2 linked regions of the Homo sapiens genome follow. The protein of the gene in region 1 purifies or fractionates together with the protein of each later gene. This does not show direct contact. Each region holds a gene or a part of one and is shown in the gene's direction. Other genes may lie near its edges.

What was found. The genes of interacting proteins can lie anywhere in the genome.
Region 2: the proteins of SCHIP1 (region 1) and CYTH3 purify together in Homo sapiens (affinity purification with mass spectrometry; one large-scale study listed by BioGRID and IntAct). This does not show direct contact.

What each region holds. Positions count from the first base shown.
Region 1 is NC_000003.12:159,276,167-159,279,821, forward strand, and holds part of SCHIP1 (schwannomin-interacting protein 1), read left to right. Parts: intron 1-3,655.
Region 2 is NC_000007.14:6,265,993-6,269,647, reverse strand, and holds part of CYTH3 (cytohesin-3), read left to right. Parts: intron 1-3,655. UniProt on the Homo sapiens protein: Promotes guanine-nucleotide exchange on ARF1 and ARF6. Promotes the activation of ARF factors through replacement of GDP with GTP. Plays a role in the epithelial polarization.

The sequences.
Region 1 (3,655 bases):
TCAGTCTCATCTCTGTTGCATCAGTCTCCATCACATATTCCTGTAGAAGCAACTCCCCTAGCTACAGTCCCAACAGGAGAAGTTCCAGTAGGGAAGAGCCTGAAACTGAAATGTGTTGCAAGAAGGTCCTAAATGGTAGCTTCTTAGAGGGACATAGGGATCCTTGGGGTTATTTCAGTGAGCAGGATGCTGATTGATTCCAAATGGGTTCTAGGCTTGTTTAGTATGTCTCTAACACTACAAGGGGCACAGTGGACATTAGAGGCTCAAGAGAGGTACCCTAGCATCCCAGAGAATCACTATAGATTGATGATTCATCATAAAACTTTCTATCAAGTGATTTTTGTCCTCAGTTACTACATTTTACTGTTATTCCTTTCTCTGTCCCAATTTTATTTGCAAGGTACATTCCTACTTTGTATTACATGATGGACCTAACTAGGTATGACCTGACTGATTTGAGATTTACATTAAATATTACTAGAAATGATGGAGTAATCTTACCTTTTCCAGAGAATAGAAAAGAGCTTAGGGACTTTTCATGCAAGATATACACATTGCTGAAAGTCCAGGAATATTATCCAAATAGAAATGTCTGGATATGATGCTTTTCTCACTTTGACTAATTTTTCAAATTCCAGTCCCTCTAAATGGATTTTACTCTCCCCCATAAGTAAACTTAAGTTGCAGCATGTAAAGAACAAGTACACATCCAGGCAGCCAGTCCTAGGGACGAAGTCAGCCCACTTCCATCTTGCCTAATTTGTCCTGTAATTCTGACTCTCATCTTGGATTTTTCACACCATCTCATCTACACTTTTGGAGTTGACTCACTACATCACACAGTGCCTGATTCCATTAATAAGACCCATCTTGATGCAATACACATTTTGAATCCAACATTCTGGATTGACCTCAGTAGCATGCTTCTCTGGAATGCTGTTTTAGTGCTCGATCTCTGACTCCTGTGCACCACAATGGCAGGAAAAAAAAACCCCACTTCTCCACCGGTTTCATTTTGTGTGCTTTGAAACTGATGGAACTGTACTGTGTAGAATACAATGTTGGTATAGAAAGCATGTACATTGATTACCCATGATATAGTAAATATCTATTTTTAAAAGCAGTCAAAGACAGACTCAGCCTAATGATGTGACAGTAGATATAAAAGAATATAAAGCTTCAGTGCCTTAGTGCAATTCATACAAATTTGCTTATGTTTCATTTTTGTTAAGATTCCTGGAAATATAAATACAAGCATTGTATCTGGACTTTAGTATGGCTTGGAAGAATTTTTTCTGATGTCTTGGTGGAGAAGATAAAGACCTGTGAATGGAATAATAATTTGGAGCTAGAAACCAATTTACTGACCCCTGGGCAAGGGAATTTCTATCAGAATATGTGACTAGTAAGGGACCTCAACACTGAGCAATCAGTGGAAGATTTATGGAGAAATTAAAAAATAATATTTACAGGCTGGTGCAGTGGCTCACGACTGTAACCCCAGCACTTTGGGAGGCTGAGGTGGGTGGATCACCTGAGGTCAGGAGTTCGAGACCAGCCTGGGCAAAGTGATGAAACCCTGTCTACTAAAAATACAAAAATTAGTGGGGCATGGTGGCAGGTGCCTGTAATCCCAGCTACAGACTGAAGCAGGCGAATCACTTGAACCCACTGGGTGGAGGTTGCAATGAGTCGAGATCATACCATTGCACTCCAGCCTGGACAACGAGCAAAACTCCGTCTCAAAAGAAAAAAAAAAAAGGATGGAGCTATTTTTCAACGGTATAGGAATAAAGCATTGAGCTTCTCATCACCAGAAAGATGAGTCACACTGGATGACCCACATAAAAGATGCTATAGAAGGGGACTCCCTAATGGTGTGTGTGCATGTGTAGCAGAAGGGCTATGTGATCTCTAAGGTCTTTTCCAACTTAGACATGGATAAGGGTCATCAGTGCAGTGTCATCTCATTTAAAAAAGAAAGCAATAATTTCTTCATTCAACAAATATGTACTGGGTACATACTCTTGTGATTACAAGAACTGAGATGATTAATCCTCCCTGAGCTCCTTGAGAAACCACCCACTTGAAAAGGAGTAAGGGGAAAACTGGGAAATAAAACCCCAGGTAGGTTTTATTTTAAACCTCAGGAGTTGGGAAAAACCCAGGAGGGAGAGTAAGATGCATCACTTGGATCTATTTGAGAAGGGAAAACTAGGTTAAAGGAGAAAAAAGCAGAACTGGAGTTATAATTTATCTTTTCATTATCTCTAGCATAGAGATACTACAATGCATAAAAAAGAAATGAAAAATTTAGAATTCATTGATCACTAATCAATTCTATGATTCTATTTAGGACTGTCAAATCTCTAATGAGCTTTTTTGCTCTTTCGCCTGTATCCTTTCAATCTGTATAGCTATAGCTGCATCATATACCTTTAAAGATTCTGTTCCAATTGTCATCTATTCTTTTATAAATTGGGAGAAATCCTGAAGCTGTAGACCATCAATTCAAGGGGTCAATATCAAGTCAGCATAGATACTGGCCCTGCTCTGAATTTGAATCTTTGCTTGATTAATTTATCATACATGGTGAATCTAGGCTATGCTGTAACGAAGGGATCCCCAAAAGTATAATAGCTCACAAACAGCAGTTTTTTTCCTGTTTAGGCATCAGTACTGAAAGGGGAAGCAATACAGTGGGGTGACCCTTCTTCATATAGTCATTCAGAGAACCCAGGATGGTGGGAGCTATGCCATCTTCAACACATGGCTCTCAAGACCACCTTACAGTTGTCTCCCTTCTAGCAAAATAGAAAGGAAAAAGGGCACATGTGGGAGGTTCTAGTGGGCCCATTCTGAAAGAGGCACACATCACTCAACTCACATTCTTTTGACTGAACCCAGTCACATGCTGATATGGTTTGGCTGTGTCCCCACCCAAATCTCACCTTGAATTGTAGCTCCCATAATCCCCATGTGTCATGAGAGGACCCAATGGAGGGTAATTGAATCATGGGAGCAGGTTTTTCCTGTGCTGTTCTCATGATAGTGAGCAAGTCTCATGAGATCTGATGGTTTTATAAAGGGCAGTTCCCCTGCACACACGCTCTTGCCTGCTGCCATGTAAGGTGTGCCTTTGCTCCTCCTTCACCTTCTGCCATGATTGTGAGGCCTCCCCAGCCATGTGAAACTGTGAGTTCATGAAACCTCTTTTTCTTTATAAATTACCCAGTCTCGGATATTTCTTCATAGCAGTATGAAAATGGACTAATACACATGCCATACCTAACTGCAAGGGAGGCTGAGAAATATCCTACAGGTTACATAGAAATAAGAAAATAAAATAGATTTTAGAGCACTTAGTACTTTCTGCCATACCTGGACTTCTGTTCTACTGTGGGAAGACTTCTTCCTCCAAACCCACAGTTCCTGTTGCTGTAAACCTGGTATAGCCTGCTAGATCTGCTTGATGTTAATTTTACTGCAGCCTTGACCATTGCTAATTTCAGTCTTCAGGTTGCAAACTATAGAACTTGACCCTAGGTAATTTAAGCTGAAAAATAATTTATTAGAAACACAACAGATAACTCACTAAATTGACAGGAAGGCTAGAGAATCAGGCTCAGAAAAAGGGAACTAAAGGAAGTTG
Region 2 (3,655 bases), on another chromosome or scaffold:
TTTTAATTCCTATGGGACTTTGTTGCCTTTCAGTTTTTCGAGAACAGTTCTTGAGCTAATTGGAGGGTAGCTGGCTAGTTTGGCTCATTGGGATTGTCTTCGTGTCCTGTTTGGGCATTTGTCTGATTGATGGTCCTGAATGGACCATCCCTGGCAGATGAGGTGAATTAACTATAATTGGCATTCTTCTCTCTGACCCCTTCACTCCCTGATCAATGTAGGTGTCTGTGCTTCAGGTGAAGAGATGCTGAGCCTTGTTCATAATAAAATACATGCAAATTAAGACTAGATTGAGCTCCCACCTTTCACCTTCAGACAGGTGATAACCCCCAAGTATACAAAGTCTGTTTCAAGTTTGAAATATTTGAACGGCAAGGTCGTTTCAAACATTTACGGGTAAGAGTGTAAAGTAGCCACAGGCAGGGTCAGCCCATGTCCTGTTGGCTCAGATCCGTTTCTTGCCCTTTCCCTGCAGGGACTCACCCCTGCAGGCAACATTTCCCAGGCCCTTGGTCAGCTGGCTTCCGGCTGGGATTGGCCACTGGGAGCCACTGGCAGGAGGAATGGCAGGAAGAAGGACAAAAACAGGTTATTTCCCTTAGGCCTGCCTCAGGGAGTGTCTCTGGCAGGTACCTTGTCTCCTTTTGGCTCCAGCTCCTGCCCCTTGGTCCTAGCCTTTGAGTCTTGGAAATACCTCCTCCCTTTTACCCTCTATTTGAGAAGTGGTAACAGCAGCTTGCTCTTGATAATCTTTGTATTATCATTTCCTGTTTGGCTTTTCAGTTTTTCCATCACCCCTGTCACTAATTCCTTATATTAAATTCCCTCTATATCAGATTCTTAAAGGGATGGTTTCTCTGGATGTCTCTGTTTCTCTGGGTGGACCCTGATAGATACAGGTGCTTTAGGCAGTAGCTTTAAAAATTACAGGCGTGTAAATCCTTTGACCCAGCAATCCAGTTCTAGGAATTTAACCTGCAGATATATTTGTACACGTGTGAGATAACATAGGTACAAGATTATTTATTGCCTTGAGTGTCCATCAGCAAGCAAGAGACTTATCAGATAAATCCATGCCCAGATGGTTAATGAGGTTGTAAAGTTGTAGAAAGGAACGAGGAAGCTCTTTTCTTAGTTGACATGGAGAGATCTCCAAAATATCTTAAGTTACAAGAGCAGGCCGGGCGCGGCGGCTCTCACCTATAATCCTAGCACTTTGGGAGGCCGAGGCGGGTGGATCATTTGAGGTCAGGAATTCAAGACCAGCCTGGGCAGCATGGTGAAACTCCGTTTCTACTAAAAAAATACAAAAATTAGCCGGGAGTGGTGGTGCGTGCCTGTAATCTCAGCTACGCGGGAGGCTGAGGCAGGAGAATCGCTTGAGCCTGGGAGGTGCAGGTTGCGGTGAGTGAGATTGCGCCACTGCATTCCAGTCTGGGCAACAGAGTGAGACCCTGTCTCAAAAAAACAAAACAAAATTACAAGAGCAAAGTGTAGGAAAGTGTGCATTGCGTGCTCCCATTCTTGTGTTTTGAAAGAGGAGGTAATGGCTGATGCATGCAGATTCCCTGGAAGGTGAAAGGAGGAACCAATAACAATGGTTACCTGATTGGGGAAGATGATGGGAACTGAGTGGATGGGGAATATAGGTGGGAAGGAAACTTTTCACTATGCGCCTTTTTATTTTTTGAAATTCAAAAAAGTTTGAATAATCTGTCTTCACTTTTTCTAAAATTGGAAAGCAGTTTCATAGAAAAATAGTATGATGGTAAGAAAATACCCATTTTACACCTTTTTTGAGGGAATTTTTATAGATTAAAAAATACAGCTGGGCGCAATGGCTCACGCCTGTAATCCCAGCACTTTGGGAGGCCAAGGCGGGTAGATCATGAGGTCAGGAGTTCGAGACCAGTCTGGCCAATGTGGTGAAACCCCGTCTCTACTAAAAATACAAAAATTAGCCGGGCATAGTGATGCGCACCTGTAGTCCCAGCTGCTCGAGAGGCTGAGGCAGGAGAATTGCTTGAACCCTGGAGGCAGAGGTTGCAATGAGCCGAGATAGCGCCACTGCCTGGCGACAGAGTGAGACTCGGTCTCAAAACAAACAAACAAAATATTCTGGGAAGACCGCAACAAAAAGATAATGTGATATGCAATGTAAGGTTATAAAATGTTACCTATTTTTCATTCTGTAGTAAGTTAACTACTGTATTTTTGAGAGTTTAAAAAGTGGATGCTTTTAGATTATGCTTAGAGTATATTCTTTTGTAGTCATTTACTCAAATGTTGATGGTGTCTCTACCAAATACCAGGTTCTATGCATGGCACAAGAGCTATTAGTGCCTGTGTCATGCCGTTTTTGCATTGCTATAAAGAAGTACCTGAGCCTGGGTTATATATAAAGGAAAGAGGTTTCATGGACTCATGGTTGTGCAGGCTGTAGCTGTACAGGCATGGTGCCAGCATCTGCTCGGCTCCTGGGGAGGCCTCAGGGAGCTTTTTACTCATAATGGAAGGTGAAGCAGGATCAGGCACATCACATGGCTAGAGCAGGAGCAAGAGGGAAGAGATGCCACGCCCTTAAACGACCAGATCTCAGGAGTCCTCACTCACTATTGCAAGGGCAGCACTGAGCCATGAGGGATCTGCCTCCATGATCCTGTCGCCTCCCCTCCAAGTCCTGCCTCCAGCATTGGGGATTACAGTTCAACATGAGATTTGGGCGGGGCATATATCCAAACTGTATCAGTGCCTAACAGTGGTGAATACGGCAGATAAATTTCCCACGTTCATGGAGCTCATGTTTAGATGGAGAGACAGACAAAAGAGGTAAACAGCTATATATAAAATAATCATGTATTATGCTAGATGTGTTAAAGGAAATCAACAAGAGGTTGAGGAAGAGAAAGTGTGGGATGGGAGAGGTGTAGGGAAAGCCCGTGGCCAGGGAAGGCCTCTGAGGAAATGCCCTTCGAGGTGCAATCTATAGGGGTAGTGGACCAGACAGAAGGGAAGGCATGGAGCTGGCAAGAGCTGAGTATTCTAGAGAATTAAAAGCAGCTTTGTGTGGCTTGAACAGACAGTGAAGCGGGAGAGATAGACTGGGGCCATGTCAGGCTTTCAGTAGCTAAGGAATGCAGATTTTATTCTAAGTACATGAAGCCGCTGAAAGATTTTTAAACGGGGAAATCTCATTTGATTTACATTTCAATAATTTTAGCTAATATTTACTTGATGCTGTATGTCCTGTGTACTTTCTGCGTCTTAATTTATTGACTCTTCATCATATTGCTATTTTCAGATTGGAAAATGGAGGCATAGGGAAGCTAAGTAATTGGTCTGAAATTTCACAGCTAGCAGGTGATGGAGCTGTGATTGGAACCCAAGCCTTCCATTTCAGAATCCGTATTCTCAACCACTGCCCCCTGCTTTTTAAAGAAGCATATTCTTGACTCCTGAGTGGAGAGTGGTTTGGAGGAGAAGGGAGGACTTGGGAGAAGGGAGGTGTTGCAGTGGTTCAGGTGAGAGTTACGGGGCTTGGTGGGTTAGGGTGGTAGTGGGAAATATGGAGGGAAGGATATATATAAAACACATCTGTATAAAACATACAGAAAAGTACAAAGAATAATGAAACCAGCACTCTTGTTCCCACTAC